Regions from separate parts of the Homo sapiens genome. Here all the other regions are linked to region 1. Evidence: fine-mapped expression QTL. A gene starts in region 1. Each other region holds a variant in brackets. All regions are shown on one strand. Distances are between the middles of the regions.

Region 1 (10,668 bases):
AGAATTTTTCTAATATCCTTTGAGAATTTCTCTTTTTTCCTCCCTTTTCTTTTTGTTCCCTCTGTTTTTAGTTCCTCTGTTTCCCCAGCATTCCATTAAAATTTACATATTGTGATTTTTGCTATATACGTATGCCTTTTATTTCGTTTTTCTGTCTTAGTGCACTGACTTGGAGTTCCAATACAATGTTGACTAAGAGTGGTGATAGTGGACTTCCTTGCCTTTTCCCGACCTTGGGGGGAAAGAATTCAGTCTTTTAAGAATAATGCTAGATATTCTGTGCGGTTTTTTTTTTTGGGGGGGGCGGGTATCTGCTCTTTATCAGGTCAAAGAAGTTCCCTTTTATTCCTATTTTGCTGAAAGCTATCATGAATGGATGTTGAATTTTGTCAGTGCTTTTTTCCGCATCAGTGAATATGATCAGGCAGCTTTTCTTCTTTAGACAGTAAATATGGTGGATTGCATTGAGTGATTTTCTCATGTTGAACAAGCCTTGTAATCCTAGGATAAATACCACTTGGTCATGGTGTACACTTCTTTTTATACATTGTTAGATTCAATTTACTAATATTTTGTTAAGAATTTTTATGTCTAAGTTCATGAGAGATATTGGTATGTAGCTTTCTTTTCTTCAACTGTCTGACTCTCTAGAAGAGACTGTACAGTATTGGTGTTATTTCTTCACACGGAAATCTATTTTTGTTGGATGTATTATTTTTGGTTAACAGTTCTTTCAGCACATTAAAAATGCTGTGCATGTCTTTATGACCTTCTTGGTTTCTGATGAGAAATCCGTAGTCATCTGAATTGTTGTTACCCTGTATGTAATATTTCATTTTTATCTTTCTGCTTTAAACATATTTTTTTGTTTTTCTTTTCAGCAGTTTGAATATAATGTGTCTGTGCTTTGATTCTTTGGGCTTATCCTGCTTGGGTTTTGCTGAGGTTCTTCAATCTGCAGGCTTGTGTCTTTTGCTTTATCTGGAATGTTTTCAGTTATTATATTTTCACATCTTTTTTTCTGTACCACACTGTTTCTCTTCTCCTTCTGTAACTCTAAAGACACAAATGTTAGATATTTTATTATCTCCTATAGGTCTTTGTGGCTCTATTTATTTTTCAGTTTTTCCTCTCTGCTATTCAGGTTGGATAATTTCTATTGATCTATTTTCATATTTACTGACTCTTTCATCTCTATTCTGCTATTGCATCCATCCAATTTTAAAATTCCAGCTATTGTATTCTTCACTTATAAAATTTTTTTTTTTTTTTTTGAGATGGAGTGTCACTCTGTCACCCAGGCTGGAGCGCAGTGGTGCGATCTCAGTTCACTGCAAACTCCACCTCCCAGGTTCAAGTTATTCTCCTGCCTCAGCCTCCCAGTAGCTGGGATTACAGGCACATGCCACCATGCCCAGTGAATTTCTGTATTTTTAGTAGAGATGGGGTTTCACCATGTTGGCCAGGCTGGTCTGGAACTCCTGACCTTGTGATCTACCCGCTTTGGCTTCCCAAAGTGCTGGGATTACAGGTGTGAGCCACTGTGCCCAGCCTAAAATTTCAATTTGGTTCTTCTTTTATCTTTTACTCCTGTGCTGAGCCTTTTATCCTTACATTCATTTCAAGATTATTTGTCCTTACTTGTTGGAGCATCATTATAATAGCTGCTTTAAAGTCTTTTTCAGATAATTCCAACATTGGTGTCACCTCAGCAGTGGTGTCTGTTGTTTGCCTTTTCCCACCCAAGTTAAGATTTTCATGGTTCTTCAGGTATTGAATAATTTTGGGTTGTATCCTGGACATTTTGAATATTATGTTATAGGACTTTGTATCTTGTTTTAATACTATGGGGAAATATTCATATTTTTGTTTTAGTTTGTAATAGACATGCTTGGGTTTAGATCACAAGTTCTGACATGCCTTTTGTGGATAGTGGCTCCAAAGTCAATTCAGTTTTCAAAAGTTTGTAATGCTATTCAGATCTGTCCTACATGTGTTTTATCCAGTGGCTAGTCTAGGGCTTGGGTGGTGGTCTGCCTCTTAGTTCAGTTATCACAGTCTTTGGTATGCTGTTTAGGATCAGATCCATGTGCAGGTTGGGGTGAACCTAGGAGTTCATAAAAACTTTATGAGGACCTTTCCCAAGGTCCTCTCCTCTCTACTGTCTCCTTGGTACTTTGTAATGCCTTGGAGTTCCCCTTTTAATCAATTGGCAAGAAATCTAGACTATTTAATTTATTTAAAGACAGGGTCTCGCTCTGTCGCCCAGGCTGGAGTACAGTGGTGTGATCATAGCTCACTGTAGCCTCGAACTCCTGAGCTCAAGTGAGCCTCCCACCTTAGCCTCTTGAGTAGCCAAGACTACAGGCAAGCACTACAGTGCCCAGCTAATTTTATTTTTAAATGTTTCATAGAGACAGGGTCTTGCTACATTGCCCAGGCTGTTCTCCAACTCCTGGCCTCAACAAATCCACTCACCTCAGCCTCCCAAAATGTTGGGATTACAGGGGTGAGCCACTGTGCCTGTCCAGAAATCTGGGTCTTTATTTAATCCTCTCTGTTATGTATTTCCTGAAACTTTGCCCATGTCTTGGGCCAAGCATCAGGACAGAGAGAGTGAAAAAATATATATCATTGAGGTTTTGGCCCCACTGTCTTGGGACCAGAGCTACTTCAAACAGAGAGGAAGGTTCTCCCCTCCCTTAGCATTTTTTGGGTGCTTGAAGGTATTGCTGTCTCCATTGTCACTGTTGACTGAGGTGCCACAGTGGGATTGCTTATTGGCTAAAATGTAAGAGAATGGAGAAAAGAAAAAAAATGGCACATTTCTCCTACTTTCTCTGAATATTAGGAGACCAATTTTCTGCTTTTCCTGGAGCTCTCTCTGTCCATGTTGATGCTCCCTTCCGGGTGTTAAGCTGCCTTGAGTCCAGTCTAGTGGAGACTGGAGGAAAAAAATGGTAAACTCACCGCCAGTTCAGTTTTACTTCAAATTCTGTTGTTTTTCCTCAGTTTATGTGGTACAATTTACTTTCCAGAGTCCTCAAATAGTTGCTGCATGCATTCTGTTCACATTTTATAGCTGTATTCAGTAGCAGGTAATGGGTTTAGTGTGATTATTCTGTGTTAACTGAAATCAGAACTCCTGTATTATATAGGTTAGTTTTCACACATAAATATGTAGAGATAATGGAGTGTTTTCTTTGGTGTGTATTTGTGAATGGTTGGGACTAGTCTTTTCATACTCTACCCAAGGGAACTACTTTACATAATAAATACTCTTCTGGTTATCTATTGCTGTGGAAGAAACCACCCTCAAACTTAGTAGCTTAAAATAACACCAATCATTTTATTATGCTACAGTTGCAGATGTTGGTTAGGTTCAGCGACATGGTTCTTGCTTGGGGCCTCTCATATGTCTACAGTAAGATGGTGGCTGGGAATGAATTGATTTGAAGACTCATTCATTCACATGTGTGGCATTTGGGCTGGGAACACTCAAAAAGTTGGGTCTCCTGTGGCATCTACCTCTATTGCTACATGGTCTCTCTACATGGTTTCTTCAGTATGTCAGCTTCCAGGTAGCTAGATTTCTTTGTCTGTTTGTTTGTTTTTTTGTTTTTGGAGGCAGGGTCTCACTCTGTCACTCAGGCTGGAGTGCAGTGGTGCAATCTTGGCTCACTGCAACCTCTGCCTCCCAGGTTCAAGTGATTCTCGTGCCACCACCTCCCAAGTAGCTGGGATTACAGGCACACACCACCACACCCGGCTAATTTTTGTATTTTTAGTGGAGACAGGGTTTTGCCATGTTGGTCAGGCTGGTCTTGAACTCCTGACCTCAGGTGATCCGCCCGCCTTGGCCTCCCAAAGTGCTGGGATTACAGGCGTGAGCCACCGTGCCCAGCCTAGCTAGAGTGGAAAGTGACAGAATGAAACAGGCAGGAGCTAGATTACCTTTTATGACCTAGCCTCACAAATCACATAATCTCCATTACCACATTATATTCTTTGAGGGAGTCACAAAGGTCCACTGAGGTTCAAGGGGAGGGAACATAGATGCCCCTTCTTGATGGGGGATGGTAAGGTTCTGGGATTGGAAATATGATTGTGGCCATCTTTTTAAAAAATACAATCCGCCACAAATACTAAGAAGTCTGTACTTTTAAGGTAGCTCCTGAGTTGCCCTTTTCTAAAGAGAGAAATTCTGTCCTTGAGTACTGGGCACCCAAAGGGGCATAATATTATGACCAACACAGTGCCCATCCAGGTTTTAAGTATTTGCAATTTTATTGGAAACCTGTGTGGAACTTCAAGGTATACGGATGTTTGCAGGGGCTGAGTGACTGCCTAGAGGAGTTGGGAAAGGGGCTAGCTAAAATGTAGATGAAGAGATTTCCCTGCTTTAAAGAAACCACTAAACAGCTTTGGCAGAGTGCTCACCTACAGGGGAACCAGGAAGGCTGCAGTACTCCAAAGAGTTTTCTTACCTAATGCTACCTCTACCCTATTATTTCATTTGGTTAAGCATCACCTTCTTCAATGAATCCTCTTAAAAATGCAAACTCCCCTGGGAGCGAAAACATGGGCAGTTTTGGTAGAGATTTCAGAGTGGTTCAATAAACACATGAGTACAGTGCTAAGCACTGGGAACTCAGTGATTAATCTGATCTTGTTTCTTCCTTGACCAGAGGAGCAAGGTGGATTGAAGATTCTAGTTTTCCTGAGAATTTGTTCCAAGAGGCTTCATCCTTCAGAGTCCACGCCATAATTTTGTTCAGAGCTGGGTTTGGTCTTAAGAGTCATTAAAAGACTCTCTGAGCTACCAGGTGAGCAACATAAAAGAAAGGGTCATCAGGGTAACCCCCACCCCCCACCACCACCTTAGGACCAGCTACTGCTCATCTACCAGGAATGGCAAGCGTTCAGTTCCTTCTGGTTCAACCCTATTCCCCAAGGGGATTAGTAGCACAGCGCAGACGAAGTCTATTCCCTCAAGTGAGGAAGGAGATACTTCAATGCCCTCCCCCGATTCCAACTCCTTATCAGTCCTCACATTTGAGTCTGATGAGAACAGAGGTTTGAATGAAACCTAGCAGATTCTGGGGCTGGAAGGGCAACCTGAGAGATGAGGAAAGAGAGGTGTAGGGGCTAACGTGGCTTCGGGGCTGCTCGGTTCACTGACAGCCCCCACTTTACTGGGCCCAGGGCGGCTGCACACTGGCCTGAGATTAAACACTTCGCCGTGGCGCCAGAGACGGGACTCGAGACCGCAAGGCTAGTCACTCCAAGCCGATGCTCCCGCTAGGCGCCGGCGACCTCTGGCGTCCCCTTTCGGAAGTGCGGCGGCGGCTGCCCATGAACTGGCCCCACGACCCCAGACTGCCTGGGCAGGTGCGCCAGGACGGGGTGAGAAGCGCAGAGAGGCAAGCAGCCGGCGGCCGGCCCGCAGACCCGAGGGCAACACCCGGCCCCGCCTGGGTGGCTCGGTTGGCCCGCGGGGCGGTGCGGCGTGGCGCGGCCGGGGGACGAACAGGTGCGCGGGCGGGGGGCGGTGCTTGGGGATCCTGCGCACTGCGCGCGCCCCTCCCCCGCGCGGCCCCGGGCGCAGCCCCGGCCCGGCGCGAGTAGGAGGAGGAGCTGCAGCGGCCACGGCCACTCCGGCAGGTCCGCGGTGCTGCCAGAACCCGCCGACGGCGCGGGCTGCTGGTCCCCGCTCGGAGGAGGCGCGGGGGGCCCCGGGACCATGGAGCCTGGTGACGCGGCGCGCCCTGGCTCGGGTCGGGCTACCGGGGCGCCGCCGCCGCGGCTGCTGCTGCTGCCGCTGCTGCTGGGTTGGGGGCTGCGAGTCGCGGCCGCGGCCTCGGCCTCCTCCTCTGGGGCGGCGGCGGAGGACAGCAGCGCCATGGAGGAGCTCGCTACTGAGAAGGAGGCGGAGGAGAGCCACCGGCAAGACAGCGTGAGCCTGCTCACCTTCATCCTGCTGCTCACGCTCACCATCCTCACCATCTGGCTCTTCAAGCACCGCCGGGTGCGCTTTCTGCACGAGACCGGGCTGGCCATGATCTATGGTGAGCACCCCTGTTACACCCCCCGCCCTCCACACCCCTCGGCCGCCGCGCTCCTCCTGGCGCCGCGCGGTGCTCCCCCTTCACTTGCCAACGTGTTCCGTTTCTTTTACGTTTCCCGCTGCGACGGTGTTGGTTCCCAAGGTCAACTGTCTGCATTTTCTGGCTCTCTGCTACCGTTAAAAACAATTCCACCCCTATTCCACGTTTCTGCATTGGGAACCCAGGAAAATGAAAGGGACAGAGGTGGTCCGGTTCCGTCTGCCCCGTTCGGTCTCTGTTGCAAACCTCTTACCCACCACCTCCCGCTCCAGTTGAGCTCGATAGGGTGTGTGTGCCTGCGTGGTGGCTGGAGGTGGGTGGCTTCCCAGGTGACTGCATCACCTCAGGGGACAGGCCACAGTAGGGAGTGGGGACGAAGTCTGAAAGTGTCTTTGCTTGGGTATGGGTTAGTGGGGCCTCTTGGACGCCACATCCATGGTCAGCCTGGGTGGGTACCCACTCCTGAGGTCCACATTCCCAGGTCTCTTAATGATAAAGTCAGAGCATGAAGTGTGGTGAAAGGTGAGCAGTGGTCCAGGACCCAGAGTGGGTGGCACCACCATGTCAGGCCTGGACGAGGAGACAGGCACGCCTCCTGCTCTTATGTCCCGAGTGGAAAGTTATACCCAGTTACTTGCTTTCTCAAACGAAGAGGAGCTTTTGTATTCCTAAGACGGTAACAGGGAGTGAGTTTGAGATACATTTCCGAATGTATGAAGGGGAAAAGTCGTGGTTTTAATTCCGGAGTCAGCCATCTTTTGTTGTTAGGGGTGGGCTGATGCTACCATCCTTTTCTAGATTTAATGGTACACAGTGTGTTACATGCACAGTGGTCAGTACAAATCTCCCTTTATTACATGGATGTCAGCCATAATCTGAGTCATCCCTCTTCCTCTTCTGTGCCCCCTGCCTCCCCCCTCGCCCTGCCCATGACTCCAAAGTGGAGTCAGGTATTCTCTTTTTGAATGTAATTCAGTGGTGTTAAAGCCCCTGAATTGGCATCCTCACACGAAATAGACGAGCCACTTCATGATTGTTCCCAACGGGGAAAATTTTATTTTATCACATATACTGAGGGATTTCTTTATTCAGTTTCCATCCAGGTGCCCTGATAGAGAATGGAAAGCAGAAACCTTAACCTTTAATGTGAAAATTACCCTTGGTTCTGGGCCTTGCTTCTCATGTTTCTTGATTAGTTGTTGACAGCCGGGGCTCATGGCCACCAGGCCCTCGCAGCCAAACCGTGTAAGGGGCAAGCGCTGTTAAGAGCCCTCCAGTTTTGATGAAGTAGTGACCTACACAGATCTTGAAACAGGACCAGGTCTAAAACCGAGTTTGGTGATTGCGAATTATAGGTCTCAACACAGACTTTGGCCTCCATCCCTGACCGTTGTTGAGCTCTGTGGTTTGTGTCAGTTGGTGATAAATGACTGATGCCAGGCCTGCAGGTAAGCTGGGAGGTTTCCTGAGAAGACAGACAGGGGGGAATTGAAGCACGTGGTCATTGCAGGTGATTGACTCCAAGCCATGATGCAAATGAAAATTGCCTTTATATAGATAACCGTGAAAATATTTTTATTTAATAGGCCCTAGACCCAGTTTCTTAAAGGACAATGTGAAATAGGAGGTAGATTTGTCAGATTCGTAAACACATGCTCAAGGGATGGAAAATAAATGGGGATTTGAAAATATATTTTCTGGAGAGTACTCCGTGTTCTGAGGAGTTCAATCACCTTTATCTTAAGGCTTAAAGACAACAGTGGAATTTTCCTTTGCTGATACGTACTTTTAAAACTCACCTCCATCTTTCAGCCATTTGGTTGTGCTACAGTGTACTGTTTTATTTTGTGAACAATCAAGTTACAAATCTAGTGTAACTGATGGCTGTTCAGAAAAGGCAATATCATCTCAGCATTCCTGTGTAATTTTGTTCTATATCTTTGAGTATTAGTGTTTCTTTAAATGTATAAAGAAATTTAGTTTGTCAATATGTGATGTCTCAGGTTATGCCAAATATTAATATTTTAAGGACTGTCTGTAATTGTGAGAAAACATTTCTTCTTTCTCTCAGGTATGTTTGGTCTTCTACTGCAAGGTCCCCCTAATCTGAATTCTAATGTCATGTGATTAGCTAATTATTCATAGTATACTGAAGACTATTGGGATGGGGATTTTAAACTGATCTTAAAATTCAGTTTGCAAATCTTTTAAAAAATTGTCTGCATTTAAGATGTACAACATGATGTTTTGATAAACACAATGAAATGATTACTACTGTCAAGCAAATCTTTGAACACAAGTAAATCCAGTAAAGATTTTTCAAGACTTCTCTTTTTTAATAGTAAAAAATAAAATTTGATTTCTCTATATCAATAGAGGAAGTGAGTAATTGTCCTCTTGGCTCTGAATAAGGAACGACAAAAAGACCTAAGGAAACATTTTTAAAGTATCCACTGTGTGCTGGGAACCCAACTTAATTTCTGGAGGCAAACAATTTAACTTTTAAATGTTTATGAATGAAAGAGTTCAACTGTGAATTTCAAAACTCTTTATTTTGAGAAAAAGTTTTAAAATGTAATTTCTGCCACCTTTTTGTGTTTAAGTGACACTTTAATCTGAGAAGAACAGCGTTTACATTTAAGATAAATTTATATATATATAAATTTATATATTTGTTGGTATAGTCGTAAAATATCTCTGGAAGGACATGCAATAGATGAGTAACATTGGTTTCCTTGGGGGAGAGGAACTAGATGGCTGTGAAATAGGAGTGGGAGGGAGAGGTCACCATATAACCTTGTATGCTTCTTGGTCTTGTAATAGCTTTTTTTTTTTTTTTTTTCCAAGACGGAGTCTCACTCTGTCGCCCAGGCTTGAATGCAGTAGCGCAATCTCGGCTCACTGCAAACTCCACCTCCCGGATTCAAGCAATTCTTCATCTCAGCCTCCTGAGTAGCTGGGATTACAGGCGCCCGCCACCATGCCCGGCTAAATTTTGTATTTTTAGTAGAGATTGGGTTTCACCATCTTGGCCAGGCTGGTCTTGAACTCCTGACCTCCACCCACCTCAGCCTCCCAAAGTGCTGGGATTACAGGTGTGAGCCACCGCACCCGGCTGTAATAGCATTTTAACGTGCTCCTCAAATCACTCAATTTGACGCCTACTTCTCCCTATTTAAATCACATTATGTTATCAATTTTCTTCATGACTTTTCAATTCTTAATTGTGCCCTTGGAGCTTTTCTGAGCCCTGTGTCTGGGATGGAGATAAAATGGGGAAAGGGGAAGAGATTTCTCTCTCTCTCTCCCTCCCTCCCTCCCTCTCTCACCCTCTCTTTCCCACTCGCTCTCTCCCTCTTTTTCCTTCCCTTTATTCCATTATCCTCAGAGAGTAGTCAATGTTACATTAGCAGTGATGTGCACAAATAGACCCCATAATAAGTGCTTGCTTGGATGCAGAGGACCTAAGGAAAATAAAAGACACACTGTGAATGCTTAACGTTTAAACAGAAAGGAACTCCCCCACCCACCAAAGGACACTTATAAGCATTCCTCCCTGACAGGCCAGGGCAGCTACAAGGGAAGGTAGCTACAGACCTAACTCCCCAGGAAGGTTGAAAGCAGCCCCCAGACCCCACCACTGGAGCTGCAAGGCAGCGGGGCCAGGCACTTGCCTGCCACCAGTCTAACCTGTTTTGTCAGGCCAGGGAGCTCCCAGCTGTCTGTCTCTGTTATGTGATTAAGTGCCATCCTAAAGTTACTGGGCCCTACATGTCTTTGCAGCAGAAATAGAAAGTGTTTAGGGCAGGGAAAGTTGGTATAAACAGACTGTGCCAGTTCATTGTGGTTCTCTCTCAGATGTACGGTAGTTCCACTTCCCCCATAATGTTTTTGTGACAACTGATATGGATCCAAAATAATCTGACTCTGCCATGCTAACCCACCACCTGCTTCTCGCTTCCTCCTCCTCCACCACCCCATCACCTTTCCAAAAATATGTTGATCAGCCCCTCTAGGTTCTATGGGTTGTGGGCTCACTGTTGCTGTGGTGGAGCTGGATTGCTAAGCACAGCCTGAGAGTGGGCTCATAGGCAGAGTCTGAAGGGGAAAAAGATGACTCTTTGCGGTAACATGAAATTAACATTTGAACCTGTAAGCAAACATTTTGGAACCATCTCCTTCCTGGTTAATCAGGAGTCCCCCCTTTTAAGAGCCCCTCACTTTGGCCCCAGTTGGGAGCAGCTTCTGTATGGTCTCACTTTGGTACCAGATAACCCTGGGTTCAAATGCTGGCCCTGTTGCTTATAAAACTGTATAGCATTGGATAAACTCTCTGAGCCTTAGCTTCCTCTTTTGGAAAATGGAGATTATGTTACCTCACAGAATTGCTGTGTTATTGAGATATTCTAAAGGGTCAAGTGCAGTGTCTGACACTTAAGCACTTGGTAAATATTAGTTCCCATTCTCATTTTAGGCTTTGTGATTCTTTGGCAGGCTTTACTACTTGAGGTTTGTTCAGTAGTGGACTGTTGTAATTTTAAAATGCATTAGGACACAGTTA
Region 2 (10,668 bases), 41 kb after region 1:
CATTGCTTTGTGGTGGTGTTTTTGCTTTCTTTTCTTTTCTTTCTGTTTTTTTTCTTTCTTTCTTTCTTTTTTTTTTTTTTTTTTTGTAGAAATCTTATTGCCGATACACCACGGGCTGCCCCACCCAGACACATTAGTCATGGCAAAGGGAGCAAATCATTCCTTTTTGAAGATGAGCCTTATATTACATGAATCATTATATTAATCCTTACATGAAGTCCACCTGTTATATATGTGGTGGTGATTGTATTTTGTCCATATTTCCTTTGCTGGGTGGGGAGATCAACTGTAGCTTTTTCATCCTGATTTTCATTCCTTGCTACAAAGCAGTGATTTGGTTTCTAGGTCGGCATTGTAAGGAGCCTAATGCTTTGTCACAGTACTCCAGCTCCTCACACTGATGGCTGAACAGAGGCTGCTAAAATAGGTTGATCAAGTTGTGTTTTTCATTGTCATATTTTGCACCAAATGAAGTGTGACACATCCCACTCTGTGACAGAAACTGTGAGTGACAATTGGTTCCGTGTGGTGGCCTAAAATTACAGAACGTTACCTGCTGCTTACTAAGGAAGAATCTTCTGGAGGTTTTCCCTGTACCTCTGATTGGAGCCCACAATAGAACTTGTGTATGGCATCTAATAAATTGCAATCCCAGTGTGACAAAGACCTGTAGGCACAGAGAAGAAATAACTTGGTCACATAAAGTTTTGGAGTTCCCAAATCACTCATTTAATGTTATTTTTAAACATCCATCTCTCATTTGGTTACTTTCTTTAATAGTCCAATTCTTTATGTGTAATACAGAAATCAAATATAAATGGGATTGATAAAAGTCCTTCTTTGCCTCGTGGAATTTTAGTTTTTACAAATAACCTTAGAATAATTCAGGTAACTAAGGTATTTGGAGTAACAGTGCTTACTTGTACATGAAGAACTCAACTATCACTCTCTGTTCCCCATTTTTCTGCAAGTAACTCAATTAGCTAGATTAACAAACATTGTCACAGAAACAAAGTGTTTTTTTTAAAGCTATGGATCCTTGTGTTTATATTTTTAAAAAGCCATAAACAGGCATTTCTACCTTATTAAGAGGACTTAAACAGGTGTTTAAACACTAAGACAGTGATGATTTTAAAACATAATAAAACTCTAAGTTAAGGCTTTTGTTTTGAAACCCACATTCATAGCTACTTATATGTGGAACACCTTTGTATTTGGGGGCAACGTGCTATTAAGGCTGTTGTTGACCCTAGTACTCACTACTCGCCCTTACACACACACACACCCCCACACCCACACACACACCCACCAGAGAGAAACAGTGTTTTTTTAGAACCCAGGACCATCAAAATAGTTTTTTGACTTATCAAGCCTTGAACTGGAATAGGAAACCCACATTTGTTCTAGTGTTTATGTGTTTAATAGTTCATACCATGAAGTTATATGTTGATTGCAGATGTGGGAAGCAAAATGGAAAAAAATGCATCTTGCTGACAAACATCGCCGACTGCCTTCACTAACTGCACTTAGCACAATACGTAATCATCTTTTCTCTTTGTTTACTCATTTATGGGCTACCCCTCCCTACCTGCTCTAGACTGAAGTTGAGAAAGGCAAGGCCTTTGCTTGTCTTCCTCGAGATTGCTCAGATATTGTTTGCAAGAGAGTCCCCATAGCCTTTGGTGGGTTGGTGGCTGTGATAGGGAGGGTCTTTTGTCAACCCTGGGCCTTCACTTTGGAAGCTGTGCTGTGTTGCAATTAATTCTAATAAACCCATGCAGCATCTGAAGATAACCCCACAGGGAATTGAATTTTGAAGCAAACGTGTTTATTTCTTGGAAGCTTAATGGATGGATTGGAAAAAAAAAAAGAATCATTTGCTTCTAGCTTTGGAAGCCAGAGAAACCACAGGCTGAGGAGCATGCCCTTGTCCCTCAGTCTCCTATTAGCTTGCAGCTCTAATTTCTATCCAGGGTAATATGACCGAGGGGAACTATTTGCATCTTTGAAAATTCCACTCTTCTGCTGGCTTATAACAATAGAACAGTGCAAATGTATCTTGTGTGTTCTCTACCATTATGGATAATTACTAATGAAGTCTCTTTCTGGCAATTCTCATTAAGTGATTTAATTTTAGAAGTGGAAAGAACCATACCTATTGGAACACTTGAATCTCAACAGACTATTAAACTTTATTAAGAATAAGAATTATTCCCTGGAATTTTGTAAGATCACCTTAAATCAAATTATATTTTCAAAAAGGACCATAAAGATAATTGCAGTAAGAAAAAATGTTTTAAATCATTATTAATGTAGTTATATGTATAAGGACCAGAGGCGATCCTTTTGTGGGCATGCCGATTTGAAGTCCTTTGTTCAGCCTGTTTGTTCTTAAGTTTAGATTTTGTTGTACTGTGAGGCCTTACGTTTAACATCCACTCATGTGATGCTTTATCACTTTTTTGAGAGGTTTTATTCTGGAAATTCAGGATATAGTCTTGGCAGTCTAAAAACGTAGGTGGTTTTGCTTTGTTATATCATCTCAGTGATCTTCAGGAGTTATTTGGATGATCAGTTCCATCAGCTAGGGTCCCCTTCTTTTCTCTTCTCTGCCACGGCTGTGAGGGAGGTCTTGGAGGACAATAATGCCAGGTAGAGGAGGATGCAAGGTGTATGTGGGGAATTCTGAGGAGTTGAATATGAGTGTTTATGTGTAGGGGCAGATGGCAGTGGGAAGTGAAATTGGCAGGTGCCAGTGCTTTGTGGGCCTTGAATGCCATGTTAAGGAGCTTGGATTTTTTTTTTTCCCATGGATGATGAAGCTGCTGAATAATTTTAAGCAGGGTCATGGCGTGACTAGCCTCATTTGTGATTCAGAGAAATTAGTCTGGTGGCTGATGGAGAAGGAATGATTGGGGAATCAGGGGAGAAGCAGGGGGGATAGTTAAGAAACGACTGCAGAAAATCCAGTCAGGGAGCTTGAACCAGAGTAATGATAATAAGGAGAAGAGGGGGTGATCAGGAAAATACTTGAGAAGTAGAGTTGGCAGGAGTGGGAAAGGACAGGATATGGGTGTGATGAGGTGCTACTCAGTGGCACTAAGTTTTTATGCTTGAATCAAATAATTGCTCAAGTCCTAGAACCAAAGTTAGTTTCTGAGGAAAGTCTTGTTTGTGATTATAGAACTTCTCTTCAGCAGACAAGAATATGCAGGTCAAGATCTTTGATTTCTTTTTCATAACAAGTATCATTACAACCAACATACCTGGAAGATGTAGCCTATAGATCTTTTATGTTACCAGCTATTGAGGTCCTCAGTAATGACCTTAATCATGTTTGTTGTTCATCTTGTTCTTGTCAGAAGGCTGGCTGAAAATTTTGGTATTTGAGAGAGGAATGTTCTTAAGGAATATATTACTTACTAGTTTCTCAAAAAACAATTTAAGTCAAAACATCAGGAAATGACAGATTAGACCATGTTATTGTGCCCTTCAGCCTTTCACTCCTGGAATTGCCCTTATAGAACCAAACTAACTTTATGTCTTTAGTTTTCTCTTAGAGCTACTCATATATGGAATGCCTTCACATTTAGGAGAAAAATGTTATTAAGGCTATTGACCTTCGTGGCCCCCTCCCCCTAATTTCCACAAAACCCTGAGATAGTTTCTTCTTAGAGCACAAGACCAACAAAATATTTTTTTGAGTTATCAAACCTTAAGCTAGAGTAGGAAACCTATGTTTGTTCTAGTGTTTTCTATTTTGTTCTTGTCAGCAAGAAGCACAAAGTTTTAAGCTTATTTTCTATGGTTTTCCTCAAACAACTTTTAAAATTATTATTTTTGTTGTGCTCTTTTATTTATTTTATTTATTATGCTCATATATTAACTGGTTTTGTGTTTTTAGTTTAACCCATTTTAGTCAGTTGGATAAATTTTTTTTATTATACTTTAAGTTCTAGGGTACATGTGTACAATGTGCAGGTTTGTTACATATGTATACATGTGCCATGTTGGTGTGCCGCACCCATTAACTCGTCATTTACGTTAGGTGTATCTCCTAATGCTATCCCTTCCCCCTCCCCCCACCCCACGACAGGCCCCGGTGTGTGATGTTCCCCACCCTGTGTCCAAGTGTTCTCATTGTTCAATTCCCACCTATCAGTGAGAATATGCAGTGTTTGGTTTTCTGTCCTTGTGATAGTTTGCTCAGAATGATGGTTTCTAGCTTCATCCATGTCCCTACAAAGGATAGGAACTCATCCTTTTTATGGCTGCATAGTGTTCCATGGTGTATATGTGCCACATTTTCTTAATCCAGTCTATCATTGATGGACATTTGGGTTGGCTCCAAGTCTGCTATTGTGAATAGTGCCACAATAAACATATGTGTGCATGTGTCTTTATAGCAGCATGATTTATAATCCTTTGGGTATATACCCAGTAATGGGATGGCTGGGTCAAATGGTATATCTAGTTCTAGATCCTTGAGGAATCACCACACTGTCTTCCACAATGGTTGAACTAGTTTACAGTCCCACCAACAGTGTAAAAGTGTTCCTGTTTCTCCACATCCTCTCCAGCACCTGATGTTTCCTGACTTTTTAATGATCGCCATTCTAACTGGTGTGACATGGTATCTCATTGTGGTTTTGATTTGCATTTCTCTGATGGCCAGTGATGATGAGCATTTTTTCATGTGTCTGTTGGCTGCATAAATGTCTTCTTTTGAGAAGTGTCTGTTCATATCCTTCACCCACTTATTGATGGGGTTGTTTGATTTTTTCTTGTAAATTTGTTAAGTTCTTTGTAGATTCTGGATATTAGCCCTTTGTCAGATAGGTAGATTGTAAAAATCTTCTCCCATTCTGTAGGTTGCCTGTTCACTCTGATGGTGGTTTCTTTTGCTGTGCAGAAGCTCTTTAGTTTAATTAGATCCCATTTGTCAATTTTGGCTTTTGTTGCCATTGCTTTTGGTGTTTTAGACATGAAGTCCTTGCCCAGGCCTGTGTCCTGAATGGTATTGCCTAGGTTTTCTTCTAGGGTTTTAATGGTTTTAGGTCTAACATTTAAGTCTTTAATCCATCTTGAATTAATTTTTGTATAAGGTGTAAGGAAGGGATCCAGTTTCAGCTTTCTACATATGGCTAGCCAGTTTTCCCAGCACCATTTATT[A/G]AATAGGGAATCCTTTCCCCATTTCTTGTTTTCGTCAGGTTTGTCAAAGATCAGATGGTTGTGTATGTGTGGTATTATTTCTGAGGGCTCTGTTCTGTTCCATTGGTCTTTATCTCTGTTTTGGTACCAGTACCCTGCTGTTTTGGTTACTGTAGCTTTGTAGTATAGTTTGAAGTCAGGTAGCGTGATGCCTCCAGCTTTGTTCTTTTGGCTTAGGATTGTCTTGGCAATGTGGGCTCGTTTTTGGTTTCATATGAACTTTAAAGTAGTTTTTTCCAATTCTGTGAAGAAAGTCATTGGTAGCTTGATTGGGGGTGGCATTGAATCTATGAATTACCTTGGGCAGTATGGCCATTTTCATGATATTGATTCTTCCTATCCATGAGCATGGAATGTTCTTCCATTTGTTTGTGTCCTCTTTTATTTCATTGAGCAGTGGTTTGTAGTTCTCCTTTAAGAGGTCTTTCACAGCCCTTGAAAGTTGCAGTTGGATAAATATTTAAAGTATGTTTCTGAAATGAATAAAGATTGGGGCCAGGCATGGTGGCTCACACCTGTAATCCTAGCACTTTGGGAGGCTGAGATGGGTGGATCACTTGAGGTTAGGAGTTCGAGACCAGCCTTGCCAACATGATGAAGCCCCATCTCTACTAAAAATACAAAAATTAGCCAGGTACAGTGGCGCACATGTGTAATTCCAGCTTCTCAGGAGGCTGAGGCAGGAGAATCGCTTGAACCCCAGAGGTGGAGGTTGCAGTGAGCTGAGATTGTGCCACTGCACTCCAGCCTGGGCCACAGAGCAGACTGTGTCTCAAAAAAAAGATTTTGGATGACCCTACATCAGTATTTTTTGGGACATTTAAGAAGATGACTGCTCCTTGTGCAGTAATTTTCTCTTAAAAACTTCAAAACACTTTATTACACAAATACAAGAAAAATTAACACAAGTATCAGGGTGATTTTTGTGGTACAATGTGGCATTTCTAATCACCTGACCTTTGGTATAATTAGTATGTATAATGTATCTGTCCATCTTATAGAACTCAGAGCACCTTTTGAGTATTTTCCAGGAATATGTAACACAATTTCAACTTTGGTTTTTATGACATAGTTCTTGTCTGCAATGCTGATTACTTACTCAAGAATGGGACACCCCCTTCCCAATTATTTCACAATTTCTTTAGGAAAATGCGGTTATTCTGGTGGATGCGTGTTGCCATAACTCATGAGACCAGGTGTCCACAATGGAGAAGTAGGGCTAGGATTTTTTGTTTCATTTCTGTCCTGGGCAGCCTTTATCGTTTTGGTCAGAGTTCTGGCTTTATCCAGAAGCCAAGTGACTTCAGTACAAGGTGGTTTCCCCTTCCCCAAACAGCAGGGAACTAGAATCAGAAACAGGAAAAAATAAATAAATAAAAAGAAACACATTATGATCAAAATAGCTTCAAATAAGGTTTTAAAGCCACTTGGGTACTATTTGCCTATTGATATCAGAATCGTCCCTTCTTGTTTGGGTATAAATCAGTTAGATCTCCAATTTGCTAATGGTTACAATGGATATTTTAAACCAGAAGAGTCAGTACATTTATGATAGCCATAGAGTCTGCATGATTCTATATTTAAAGTGTTTTAGGGGGTGAGTGAGTGGGAATTTGAGAACAGACTTGGGCAAGGAAATTCCTTCCCCTCTGTGCTTTTGTAGCACCTGTGTCTGTTGCAGCATTTGTGCTGTGTGCTAGAGCTTCTGGTCTTACTGAAGAGGATCCTGCCTAAGTCGTCTCAGGGTTCATAGCATCCAGTGGCTGAATGTTTATTGAATTAAGGCAGGCAATAGGGATTCCTTTCTTGGTTTATCAATGTTTGTTTCTTCTCTTTTTAATAAAGAAACTGGCTGGTTTCTATTTGCGTGCTCAAAATAAGCATATCTTTACCAAGTCAGAGCCCTCTAAGGCCCTGCAAATTCTCACCTTACCACTTATCCCCTTAATGATATATCATGCATCTAGGTTTATGCATCTGAGCATTGGACTGGGATCTAGAAGTCTCAGGTCTGAGTCACTCCTTCAGTCTTCAGTACCCATCTTCACTTGAGCAGACCACTTAATATCTCTAGACTTCAACATCTTGATTTATAAAATAAGATTACTATTATAAGTCAGGGGCTGTCTATATGTGCACTGCCTGCCTTAAGGACTTTTGCCAGAAATAAAATTAAGTAATGTACAGATGTTCCTTGACTTATGATGGAGTTATGTCCTGATAAAGCCATCATAAGTTTAAAATATTGCAATTTGAAAATGCATTTAATGCACCTTACCTACCAAACATCATAGCTTAGCCCAGCTGACCGAAAATGTGCTCAGAACACTTACATTAGCCTGCAATTGGGCAATATCATCTAACACAATGCCTGTTTCATAATAAAGTGTTGAATAGCTCATAATTTATTGAATACCATACTGAAAGTGAAAACAGAATGGTTGTATGGATACTCAAAGTTCAGTTTCTACTGAATGTGTATCGCTTTTGCACCATCTTAAAGGGGAAAAATTGTAAGTCAATTCTAAGTCAGAGGGCATGTATAAGGCTTCTCAAGACTGAAAAATACACTCTGTGCGACATTTGTCATTTTCAACTAACCGAGAATGAGGGCACATTCGCAAAAATTTGATTAGATTCAGAATTTAACCTTATACCACTGGACTCATATTTTTGGGATCAGTGAATCATAATGTAGTTATTAACAATTTTGTGACCATTTCCAGGAACTAACTGTAACTGAGCCATTACAAAGAAAAAGCTGTTCAGTTATAGGGACCCAAAAATATACCAAATCAGTCAAGTGTTTATTGAATGCCTACTGTATGCCTGTTACTGTGCTATTCCACATGTGAAATAGAAAAGAAATCTTACCTATAGGTCTGATCCTCAAGGAATTTACAGTCTAGTTAGGGAGGGAATAATTTAAGAACTGGACTAATCTGTGATATAAATAAATACTTTAAAAATTCTTTAAAAATTATTTTTAGGATACTTATTGAGAGAAATGAGATATCAATGTGAGTAAGGAGCTTGGGTAGGGTCTTAAAGAGTTGAAATTAAACCTGGGAACATAATCCAAGTGGAAAGGAATTTTGTCAAGATGGAATAATTTAATCTAGCGCAATGTCTGATATATAGTACATGCTCAATAAGTATTAATTTGCTTGATGAATGAATCTCTTTCAACAAATTTATCTTCTAGTTTGCCAGTTCTCTCTTTACTGTGTCTAGTCTGCTGTTGAACTTGAAAATGAAATAAAAATGCTAAGGTCATGTTTTTCTTTTCCAGGATTTCTATTGGTTCTTTCTAAACTCACAATCCTCTACTCCACACTACACTCCTTAACCCTTTCCCTGCCTTATTTTTAGCCATAGCACCTACCGTATTCTAACATACCATGTAATCTACTTATTTTGTTTCTTATGTTTCTTCCCTTATTAGAAATATAACGAAGTCCAGAAAAGCAGGAATTTGTATTTGTTTCGTTCACTGACATATATCTCCAAACACTAGAACAGTGCCTGGGACATAGTAGGATCTCAAAAAATATTTGTCGGGGATCTCAAAAAATATTTGTCGGGGATCTCAAAAAATATATGTGTTGTCCATAAGTATGGAGGCAATAGTGAAACCTGCCAAATTAGATTGGGGTGGAGATGAGGTCCTTGTAGAGTCCAGTAGGAAATAAAATTTGGGGAGGGGCTTCATTATGGCCAGATTATATAGAGCATCCTGTGTTGAGGGGAGGTTTGGGGCTTCAACGTAGTAGGCATGTATATTATTTACAAAGCTGAGCCAAATATCCATAATTTACTTGTCATCTGGGAGACATCAGGAAATAGCAGAAAGAACTCTGGCTTTGGAATTGGAAGTATGCAAGTTGGAATCCTACTTCTACAGTTTACCAGCTATGTGGTCTTAGGGCAGTTACTTACTCTTGAAGATCCAGTTTTTTTTTTTAACTGTAAAGTGGTGTTAATAATCCCTACCTCATAAAGTTGTGGTGAAAATTAAGAGATAATATTGTAAGTAAAACCCCTAATACAAAGTGGGTGCCCAGTAAGTAGTTCTTAGACTACACTGACTGATTTGAAACTATTAGCATACTAAAATGTACTTTTTCTGTTTGGGGCACATTACTTAGAGTAGTAGGAAGAAGCAGAAAACATTGAGTATAGTATATTGAGGTAGAGTATTGTAACTGTGGTTTAGGAAAAATAACTACCAACTGTGAGTAAAAATGAAAAGGAAGATACTATATTTGGGTGTTTTACAGTCACGAAAAAAAAAAACCCACAGAAATAACTAGTATCTTTTCACTTCTCCAAAACGTTTTGAAACCTTGAGTTAATTAAGAAGGGAGAGGAAAATCCCCTAATAATACTAGAGTCACTAATAGTGTGGTCTCTGAAAGTACCGAACCACAGGGAAGTCACCGGGTTCTGGAGGAGATCAGCTTTCCTGGAGTGGTCCAGTCCTCATGGATATTCTCTTCTGGGTAGGACCTGCATGTTGACATGAACCTAGGGCACTAACTTGACCCTCCGCAGAAAAAACTTTCAATGTTAAGTCCTCTGCTTGCTAAAGGTCACCCAAGAATATTTCTCCTGGAGAAGCCTTGTGCATTTTCTTTTCTTTTCTTTTGTCTTTTTTTTTTAATTTTTTTTGAGATGGAGTTGTACTCTTGTTGCCCAGGCTGGAGTGCAATGGTGTGATCTCAGCCCACTGCAACCTCCACCTCCCGGGTTCAAGCGATTCTTCTGGCTCAGCCTCCCAAGTAGCTGGGATTACAGGCGCCCGCCACCATGCCCAGCTAGTTTTTTGTATTTTTAGTAGAGACAGGGTTTCACCATGTTGGCCAGGCTGGTCTTGAACTCCTGAGCTCAGATGATCCACCCGCCTCAGGCTCCCAAAGTGCTGGGATTACAGGCATGAGCCACCATGCCCAGCCTGCCTTGTGCATTTTCTATATAACTGGTTGTTAAAGATGTTATCCTTTTTTGCTAATTGACCCATGGATAAGGGGCCATCTGACAGCTTTGAGAATTTAGGATTAAGCAAACATTTATTTCTCTTAACTGGTTATTCCCTCTTATCAGATTATGAGAATTAAATAGCACACAATGCTTCCTTTTTGTTTCAGTTATCAAGAAACTCAGAGCACCATGTAATGCTTGATTACAATAACAAAAAGTCTAGGAGGACCATAAATTTACTTCCTCCTTGTATGCTATAGTTCAGTACTGTCGTTTTCTATTTTAAGTGGCTTGCTGTGTAGAGCATCTTAAAGGCTTTACAAAATAGCCTGAGTATACCTAATTTGGCATTTGACTAATTTAACATTTCCCCAGATGTGACTCAAACATTTTGTAAATGTAGTGAATTTAAAAGACCCAGGTGTCTAGCAGTAGGGACATGGTTTAATAAACTGTGGCATATTAATACACTGCATT
Region 3 (10,668 bases), 69 kb after region 1:
GTGGCGGGCGCCTGTAATCCCAACTACTCAGGAGGCTGAGGCAGGAGGATCGCTTGAACCCAGGAGGTGGAGGTTTCAGTGAGCCGAGATTGCGCCACTGTACTCCAGCTTGGGCAAGAGAGTGAGACTCTGTCTATAAATAAATAAATAAATAAATAAATAAGTAAAAATATAAAGTTGGAGAAATGAGATTCAAAGAAATTTTTCTAAAGTCAGAAATGTTTTCTCATGTCCAAAGTGGGATACCAACTCTTGTTATATATTTCATTGTGGGTACTCTTAATATATAGGTTTGAGTGTAGTTCAGCCTCTATCTGATTGCCAGCGAGCAAATATGTTTTGAGTACCTAGTATGCCAGGCACTTCCATGTGCTAAGGATACAGAGGGGAATTCAACAGATCCCCCACACCCCACCTTCCATGGAGCTGACAGTTGGACCAGCTAGGCAGACCAACTGTCCAGATGTTTATAACAAAGTGTGGCATGTTTACAAAAGAGGAAGCACATAGTGCAGTGGGACTACAAAGCCTTGGAACCTAGCCTAGCTTAGGGAGTCAGGGAGGGCCTCTTGGAGGAGGTGGCATTTAGGCTGTGTTTCCCATTGGAAAAAATAATAGTAAAGTTGCATTTAGATATACCACCTATATAGTTAACCTGCTATCACTTCCTGAGAGTCATTGTATATTCCCCTCTGTTTCTTCCAGGGTCCTGAAGGATTTACGTTTGTGTTACATATTTGATCTGCATATAGGTATTCATGCGTGTAGCCCTTGCACTACAGAATATATTGTCTGCTGGTCTTACATCAGTTCAGTTCTCACTTTGAGAGATACTTATTGGAAAAGTATGGAACACTAGTACTGGAAAAGGATCGCACATGCGATCTCTAGATTCATTTTCTCATTTGCTCTTTTTTTAAAAAAAAACTTTATTGACATATAATTTACATATCATAAAATGCACTCATGTATACAATTTCAGTGATTTTTGGTAAAATCACAAAGTTGTGTGACCATGATAATTCAGTTTCAGAATATCTTAATCATCCCAATAGGATCCTTCATGCCTTAGCCCCTGGCCACCATGAATCTACTTTCCATCTCTGTAGATATACCTGTCCTAGACACTTCATAGAAATGGAATTATACAATATGTGGCATTTTTGTGACTGGCTTTCACTGAGCATGTATGCTTAGTGTAATATCTTTTAGGTTCATCCATGTTGTAGCATGTATCAAGTTCGTTCCTTTTTCTACTGTATGGATAGACCACATTTTGTTTATCCATTCATCAGTTGATGGACATTTGAGTTGTTTTCATTTTTTTGCTGTTATGAATAATGCTAGTATGAACATTTGTCTGCAAATCTTTGTGTGGACATCTGTTTTCAATTCTAGTCTAGGGTAGAGTGTAAATTGCTGAGTTGTATGGTAAGTTTGTTTTTAACTTTTTAAGAAACTGCAAACTGTTTTCCAAAGTGGCTGCACAATTATACATTCCCACCAGCAGCGTATGAGGGTTAGGTTTGCCACATGCTCTCCAACATATGTTAGTATCTGTATTTCTGATAATTGCCATTCTAGTGGGCATGAAATGGTATTTCATTATGGTTTTAATCTGCATTTCCTGAATGATCTATAATGTTGACCATCTTTTCGTGTGCTTATTAGTCATTCATAATTTCTTTTGGTGAAATGTCTATTCTAATCTTTTGCCCATTTTAAAATTGAATTATCTTATTATGGAGTTATATATTTATATATCCTAGATACAAGTTCTTTATCAAATATGTGTCTGCAGTTTTTTCCTCGTCATTTTCTTAATAATGTCTTTTTTTCTCTCTTTTTTTAAGAGACAGGTTCTTGCTCTGTCACACAGGCTGGAGTGCAGTGGTGTGATCATAGCTCATTGTAACCTCAAACTTCTGGGCTCAAGTGGTCCTCCCACCTCAGTCTTCTTTTTTTTTAATTTTGACTTTTATTTTAGATACAGAAGATACATGTGTAGGTTTGTTACATGAGTATATTGCACCCAGGTAGTGAGCATAGTACACAATAGGTAGTTTTTCAACCCACTCCCCATCTTTCCACCCAAGTAGTCCATCATATCTATTATTCTCATGTTTATGTCTGTATGTGTTCAGCATTTATTTCCCACTTATAAGTGGGAAAATGTGGTATTTGTTTTTCTGTTCCTGCCTTAATTCGCTTAGGATAATGGCCTCCAGCTCCATCCACGTTGCAATTTTTTTGTAGAGATGAGGTCTCACTGTGTTGCCCAGGCTGGTCTTGAACTCCTGGCCTCAAGTGATCCTCCCACCTTGGCTTCCCAAATAATGTCTTTTGAAGCACAAAAGTTTTGAATTTTGATAAAATTTAAATTATCAATTTTTTATTTTATTGTTTGTGCTTTTCATATCATATCAGTGAAAAATTTACCTAACCTAGGAACTCACAGATTTTTTCCCCTAGGCTTTTTTTTTCCTAAAGGTTGTATAATTTTAACCTCATAGATTTAGGTCTTTGACCCATTTTGAACTAATTTTTATATATATAGTATTAATTTTTATATATAGTAGGAGGTCAGAGTCTAAGTTCATCTTTATGCATGTAGATATCCAATTGTCCCAGCACCATTTGTTGAAAAGATTGTCCTTTCCTCAATTGAATTGCATTGTCATCTTTATCGAAAATCAATTAACCATAAACACACCATTTTATTTTTGGACTCTCAGTTTTGCTCCATTGAGCTATGTGTCTATCCTTATACCACTACCACACTATCTTTGTAGTGAGTTTTGAAATGTGGAAGTGAAATTCACCCAGCTTTGTTATTTTTCAAGGTAATTTGCGATCTTCTGGTGGTTTTGCATTTCCATGTATGTTTTAGGCTCAGCTTGTCAATTTCTGCCAAAAAATTTGCTGGAATTTTGATAGGAATTGCATTAAGTCTGTAGAGCAATATGGGGAGCATTGTCATGTTAGCTATATTGAGTCTTCTAATTTATGAATATGGGATGTTTCTCCATTTATTTGGGTCATTTCATTTTTCTCAGCAGTGTTTTGTAATTTTCAGTGTATAAATCTTACATTTTGGTCATTCATTTTTCACAGAACGAGTATTTGTACAATTTGGATTTTTTCATACAACTGGCACTTAGAAAATTCTGGTGAGGTGGGAATCCAGAGCTTGGAGAAGTATGGCTTCTCAGTGGTCATAATAAAAGGGGCCTGAGACCAGTGGGCAGAAGCTACAGGGAGACAAACTTTGACTCTGTTTAGAGAGCCAGTGTTGTCCTGCTGCAAAAAGGATAGACCTGGAAGATGGTGAGCCCCCTCACTGTCTGTATTTAAACAAGAGCTGTATAATATCATGGTAAGAAGCTTAGAGACCATTCGTTCTCATTTCTGAGCATGCATTGAAATCAGATATGGAACTTCTTTAAATCAAAATACCTCAAACACCCCCTAAACCTACAGGATGAGAAGTTACAGGAGAGACTCTAGACACCTGTACTTTAATTGGTTCCCCAAGATGACTCTGAATACCACAGTATAAGACCTGTCTGCTGTTGAACAGAGTGTTTTATAAATGTGATGGATAATTGGACTTGTATTGTCCCTTCCAACATTGGCATTTTGTAGTGGCATGAGATCTGGATAAAATGAGTGTGGGGCAACTGTAGACATGCCTTAGGTATGTAGGAAACACAAGCAGAGGGATTTTCCTTGGACAAGCAGGCAGGACCTGTGGTTCTGTTTGTGGTGGGCTTCATATCTCATTCGGATGGTTCAGTGCCAATGCTGAATCTCAAGCAATTCTGAAAAAAATCTTCCTAATGGTGCCATGCAGGTCATCTGATTTTAAGTGACCTGAATGCATTAGAGAAATTGAGCAATAAAATCAGTGGCTTGTGTCTCACACTTCAGGTTTAGCCCATTATATGGCAGATACTTATTTCCCATTTTAATGGGAATTTTTAATAGTAAGGTTGCTAGCTCCATGAAACCTGTCTTCCTTGCAGTCTTTTAATTCTTATTAAAAGAAAACTGATAGAGTAAGGTTGCTTACTTTTTGGCCTGTTTACCAATCTACAGTGCCACAAAGATTGATGATGATACATTATATGATGATACTGTTTTATTACTATCATTATGTGTTTTGCTAAATCCCTGGGAGAGTCTTCTAAATAAATCAGCATTTATACAAGGACAATTATGCCTACCCTTGAAATTTTCCTCTGGTGAAAACCCTATATAACTGTAAAATTGCTGTAGAAGTGCTCATTTTACAGGCACCTGGGAAGCTGCTAGAGGGACAAATAAGGAAGTTATGGTGTCCTGTGCCTTTGCTGGACAGGACAACTTCAAAAACAGTGAGTTCTGTAGCTACTTTTCTAGAGATATTTTTTCTATTTTGCTCCAGCCCACATATCACTTGTCTTCCTAACCTCCATCCCCAATATGCACTATTTTTATAGCAAGAGATGATGCAAAGGAAAATAACTAATTCTAAAGGGCTCATAAAAAGCAGCATTTGTACAGCTTTTGACAGTTTATAAAGGGTTTTGACATATGCATGTTCTCACTACATTCTTACAACAGCCCAATTTTAGAAATGAGCAGCAGAGAGGTACTTTGTGCTGGATTGTAGCTAGGTGGAAAGTGAAGTTACCTACCCAGGTCTTCTGTCACTGAATCTACCAAATTCTTCTCCATTATGCTTCCTCATTACTACCAGACAAAATAAATATATCAGGAAAAGTTGGTAAATAGCAACAAATAATGCCTTAGAATTAATTTGCTACAATATACAAAAGCAAACATTTTCAGTAAATTTTTGCTTCTTATACATTTATAAAACATGGCAAGATAACAAGCATGTAGGAATTCTGTTATTCATGCTCATGGGAGGACTTCTGGAATGACTGTGTGAGAGCTCAATAAATCTTCTTCCCAAAACACAGCAATAAAATTGGACAAAGTTGTCAAAAATAACTATTTAGTCTCTG[T/G]AAATTGATGAAAGGTCAATTAAATTGAGGAACATTTATTAAAGAAAATCTACTGAATCTTGGTAAGAATAGTAGGTGTCTATGGCATTTAAGATTGCTCCCATCCCTGCCAGATCCATGTTCTGGATGATTTATCACAGGCAGGTGGAATAGACTGCAGTGACCACCAGCTCCCATTTCTCCCACCAGCTCCAGAAATAAACCATTGTGTTTATGGTCAGTTGATTTTCAGCAAAGGTACCAAGAGAATTCACTGGAGAAAAGACCGTATTTTTAACAAATGGTGCTGGAGCAATTAGATACCCGTATGCAAAAGGATGAATTTGGACCTTAACCTGACACCATACACACTAAGTTAACTCAGATTGTATCAGAGATCTAAATGTAAGCATCAAGGCTATAAAACACTTAAAAACATAAGAAATATTCATAACTTTGGGTTAGACAAGTGTTTTTTAGATATGATACCAGAGCCACAAGCAATAAAATAAAATGGATAAATTAGATTTAATCTATCAGAGTAAAAAAATTTTGCTCTGCCAAAGACAATGTCAAGAGGCTGGAAAGACAAGCTACAGTCTGGTAGAAAATATTTGCAAATCATATATCTGACAAAGGACTTGTATCTAGAATATATAAGGAACCCAAAATGTATAAGGGAACCCAGAATATATAAGGAACCCATAAGAAAACAACCCAGTTTTTAAAATGGGCAAATAACTTGAAGAAACATTTCTCTGAAGAGGGTATTAGGATTGCCAATAAGTACACAAAAAGATATTCAACATCATTAGCCATTAGGGAAATGCAAATTTAAAGTATGGTGAAATACCACTACACACCTATTACAATAGAATGGCTAAAATGAGAGATATTGGCAATACCAAATGTGGATGAGGATGTGGAGCAACTAGAACCCTCATATGATGCTGTAGGGGACAGTGGTTAAAAAATGGTATAGTTGGGCATTTGGGTTGGTTCCAAGTCTTTGCTATTGTAAATAGTGCTGCAGTAAACATACGTGTGCATGTGTCCTTATGGTAGAATGATTTATAATCCTTTGGGTATATACCCAGTAATGGGATTGCTGGGTCAAATGGTATTTCTTTGATAGAATGGATAAAGAAAATGTGGCACATATATACAATGGAATACTATGCAGCTATAAAAAAGAATGAGTTCATGTCCTTTGCAAGGACATGGATGAAGCTGGAAGCCATCATTCTCAGCAGACTAACACAGGAACAGAAAACCAAATACCGCATGTTCTCATTCGTAAGTGGGAGTTGAACAATGAGAACACATGGACAGAAGGAGGGGAACATCACACACCAGGGCCTGTCAGGGGGTAGGGGGAAAGGGGAGGGAGAGCATTAAGACAAATATCTAATGCATGCGGGGCTTAACACCTAGATGATGTGTTGATAGGTGCAGCAAGCCACCATGGCACATGTATACCTATGTAACAAACCTGCACGTTCTGCACATGTATCCCAGAACTTAAACAAAAAAAAAAAGAACTGAAAAAAAAAAAAGGCATAATTACTTTGAGAAATGGCTTGCAGTTTCTCATAAAGTTAAAGATATGCTGCACATATGACCGAGCAGTCCCACTCTGGGTATTTACCTTAGAGAAATGAAAACATGTTCATATAAAAACTTGTTCATGGGTGTTCATGGCAGCTTTATTTGTGCCAGCCAAAAGCTGGAAAGAAGCCAGATATCCCTCAGTAGGTGAGTGTTTATACAATGGAATACAACTTAGCAGTAAAATGAGATGAAGTGTTAATTCACACAATACTTGGATGAACCTCAAAGGTGTTACGCTGAGTGAGAGAAGCCAGTCTCAAAAGGTTACATACTGCATGGTTCCATGTATTTAACCTTGCAAAGACAAAACTGTATTAATGGAAAAAACAAAACAAAACAAAACAAAACAAAAAGCAGTGGTTGCTGGGGTTAATATGTAGGATGAAGGTATCAGTGTGAAGAGATAGTACAAGAGAGTTTTGGGGGAGTGGTAGAACTATTTGGTATCCTTGTTGCAGTGGTGCTTACATGAATCTATATGTGTGTTAAAATTCATAGAACTGTACACCAAAAGAAAAAATAATTCATTGTATAACAATAAAGCAAAAAAAAAATTTTAAGACAACATCAGAGAAATTTTAAAAAAGAAAGGAAAAATATAGGTCATAGATTTGGGGAAAATATTTTCAAATTGTATTTTCAATAAGGGACTTCTATCCAGAAAACAAAAAGTTTGGGTTTTTTTTTTACCATTCAATAAGAGAACCTGAGTTAAAATATGGCAAGAGATTTGAATGACGAGACATTTCACCAAAGAAGATATACAATGGCCTATAAGCACATAAAAAGATGCTCAGCATCTTTAGGCATTAGGGAAATGCACATTAAAACTACAATGAGATACCTCTGAACATTCTCTAAAACAGGTATGATCATAAGACAATAACAAGTGCTGCTGTGCCTGTAAACAAACTATAACTCTTTTTTTTTTTTTTTTTTTGAGGCGGAGTTTCGCTCTTGTTGCCCAGGCTAGAGTGCAATGGCACGATCTTGGCTCACCGTAACCTCCACCTCCCAGGTTCAAGCGATTCTCCTGCCTCAGCCTCCTGAGTAGCTAGGATTACAGGCATGTGCCACAACGTCCAGCTAATTTTGTATTTTTAGTAGAGATGGGGTTTCTCCATGTTGGTCAGGCTGGTCTCGAGCTCCTGATCTCAGGTGATCTGCCCGCCTCGGCCTCCCAAAGTGCTGGGATTACAGGTGTGAGCCACTGCGCCCGGCCAACAAACTGTAACTCTCATGTGTTGCTGGCGAGAATGTAAAACAATACATTTTTCCCAATGTAGTTTGGCAGTTTCTAAAATATTAAACATAGATTTATCATATGACACAGCAGTTCCACTCCTAGGTATCTACTCTAGGGAAATGAAAACATGTCCACAGACTTGTATGCAAATGTTCATAGCAGCGTTATTCACATTAACAAAAAAGGGAAACAACTCAAATATTTATTGATTAGTTAATGGACAAATAAAATATGATACACTGGTACAGTGGAATACTATTTGGCAATAAAAAGGAATGAAGTACTGATACATGCCTCCAACATAGATAAACCTTGAAAACATACTAAGTGAAAGAAGCCAGACACAAGAGGCTACATATTGTATGACACCATTTATATTAAAAGTCCAGAAACGGCAAATCTATAGTACAGAAGGTAGATTAGTAGTTGCCTGGGAATTGGAGTAGGAAGCAGGAAGTGACTGCAGATGGAAATGTTTCAAAATCAGATTGCAGTGATGATTGTGCAACTCTGTGAATATACTAAAAATCATTGAATAGTATACTCTAAAATGGGTGAATCTTATGGTATGTAAATTGTACCTTAATAAAATTGCTTTTTAGTTTCACCACATATTCAAAACAAGGAACAAAAATATTTTGAATGAATTCTCCTTGAAACTAATATATCAACGAATAACACAGCTGCATAAGTAGCAGAACAAGTAGAACAAGGTATTGAAAGGGCTGTAATATTCACTCTCAAAATCCAAGTCATGTAAATTACCCCCAAACCTGAAAAGTCATTGTCAACTGCTGGAATCCATTGGATTCTCTTTATTCATTGAATTAGAAATAGTTATCACCATCTTCAAACACTGTGTAACTGGATGCAAAATGAGATACTTTCTTTTCTTGGAATTTCAGATGAAGCTTTAAAACTCATAACAACCCCTACTGTGCTGTAAAAAACTCCACAGTGGTGGCCACACTGATCAGGTGATCACCTACCCTCAGTACCTTACATAAGAAAAAATGAGGTCTCACTAAAGAACAGTGCACCCACGTACCTGTTCTCCTCCGTAACAAAGGCTTATTAACATAGACATTTAAATATTGTAGCTGATGGATGGCTGTCTAGAATTAAACCTCACCATGTCCACTTGTTCAGCTCTCCTCCCAACAGCCTCAGCCACAAAAGGAAAACTGGCACCAGACCAATGGGAGCTGGTTTCTTTAATGAACCCGTGGGATTTTTAAACCACACGTTGCTCTCATGATTATATTCCTTCATCATACTACCAAGTTTTGGATAAGCACATACATAAACTATATATATGCAAGTACAGTTGTGAAGTGAGTTTTTTTCCTATCCACAAGTTGAAACAGTCTCGAATTTTTGCCCCTTTGGAGTTTACCATCTTGTTTTAAGCCACATCAAATGTCAAAGGAATTTCATCCATATTTGCTTTCTGTAAAAGTTCAAAACAATTCTTTCATTAGTAATGTACCTACGAAATCAGTGATTGTCTCTTTATCAGCTGACATTTTATGTGCTATTTTCCCTGGCCCAAACACACAGTAGGTTATTTCTCTTTGTGATCTAGAACACTAGGCTGTTAATCTGGTCAAATCATTAGTGCTTCTGTTGCTCTCCATCATTTTTTATGAATACTGAACTTTCTGAAGCTTTCAAAAAAAAATCTAGTGCATGTTTTAATTCCTTGTAGCTATGACCACTTCACAGTTCCCTGTCAGGATGTCTCCGAGATCCAGCAGATGAAAATATGCTGTTCATGTTTTCTCCAAGTCTTTATCATTTTCTCACCTAATTACCTTCCTGCAGTTCTAATATCCTATTCTTTCTTCAACTGGAAAACGCCAAATATGAACTTAATATCATGCCATGGAATATAGTGGTAATAAATATGAATCTAAAATGTCTGGGGAGGTACCCAAACTCTACCTTGAGTTAGTGGTGTACCCTGTGGCTTGGTATATTTTTGGTCAAAACTGTCAGGATGGTGTTAACCTTACATCTCTGCTGTGGTGTTTTGTGTTGCCATATTTTAACCACAAGGGGGCAGCATCACCACCTTCGCTGTCTCCCTTCCATCTTTAATATGAGCGCATTGGGCCCAGGGTAGAGAAGAAAAGGTTTTACAACTTTAAAAAGCAATATTCGTCATCTGGTGATGATTGTAAATATGATAGTGATGATTACTGGAAGAGAGTTGAAGAATGTTTCCTCTAATTGAGGAATTTGTCTACAAATATAAACCCTCTCTTGTTAGAGTAGTATTCATGAGGACCTTTGCTAGTATGCTTCAGTCTTTCCATTAGCTCTGCTAATAATGAGGTTAGAAAAGTCAAGAAACAATGAGTTACATGAAGCAGGTTCTGATTTTTAGGAGAAAGATAGTCTGTAAATGACTTGTTTTGGCTTCCTGATGACAATTTAAGTTAAATCATGTTCCAAATAGCTGCCTCCAGATGCTGCAGATCATCCTGTATTATGATGAGTGTTGAAGGGCTAGAGTCGTCTTTGCCATGTAAAACTTCGTCAGAAAATAACTGTCTAACCAGGGAGTGAAATAAGACTAAAAAGCATCACAGAGTTCCATCTAGAGTGGAGAGAGAGCCCCCCAGAGCCCTGAACAGCTCCACTGCCACCAATCTCATTACCATCACACCTGCAAAGGGGCCACTGCTGCCACAGCTGGCCCCAGTCACCATTACTGTGACCGCAAACATGAGCAGTGAGGCTGAGACACTTGGCATGACACCATGGGCAGAGGCAGAGGGAGTGGCAGCCTGCAAACAGGACAAGAAGGTTATCCCA

The links. PIP is the estimated chance that this variant, and not a neighbour inherited with it, causes the effect. A credible set is the group of variants that fine-mapping cannot tell apart.
Region 2: its variant is the best candidate, but not a certain one, in a credible set for the expression of SLC9A7 in lung (TOPMed, PIP 0.61).
Region 3: its variant is the best candidate, but not a certain one, in a credible set for the expression of SLC9A7 in blood mononuclear cells (TOPMed, PIP 0.53).

The regions. Positions count from the first base shown.
Region 1 is chrX:46,754,105-46,764,772 of GRCh38, reverse strand. SLC9A7 (solute carrier family 9 member A7) reads left to right here and starts at 5,655. Exons shown (of 17, transcript NM_001257291.2): 1 at 5,655-6,068. The coding sequence starts at 5,744. RefSeq lists silencers at 5,374-5,723, 5,744-5,883.
Region 2 is chrX:46,712,716-46,723,383 of GRCh38, reverse strand. The region is part of intron 1 of SLC9A7 (solute carrier family 9 member A7); the gene reads left to right. Among named protein-coding and RNA genes, the nearest start is that of SLC9A7, 41 kb to the left of the region's middle. RefSeq lists an enhancer at 9,140-9,239. The variant A/G (reference allele first, on the strand shown) is at 5,173.
Region 3 is chrX:46,685,472-46,696,139 of GRCh38, reverse strand. All of the region lies in intron 1 of SLC9A7 (solute carrier family 9 member A7), which reads left to right. It also overlaps the pseudogene YBX1P8. Among named protein-coding and RNA genes, the nearest start is that of SLC9A7, 68 kb to the left of the region's middle. The variant T/G (reference allele first, on the strand shown) is at 5,013.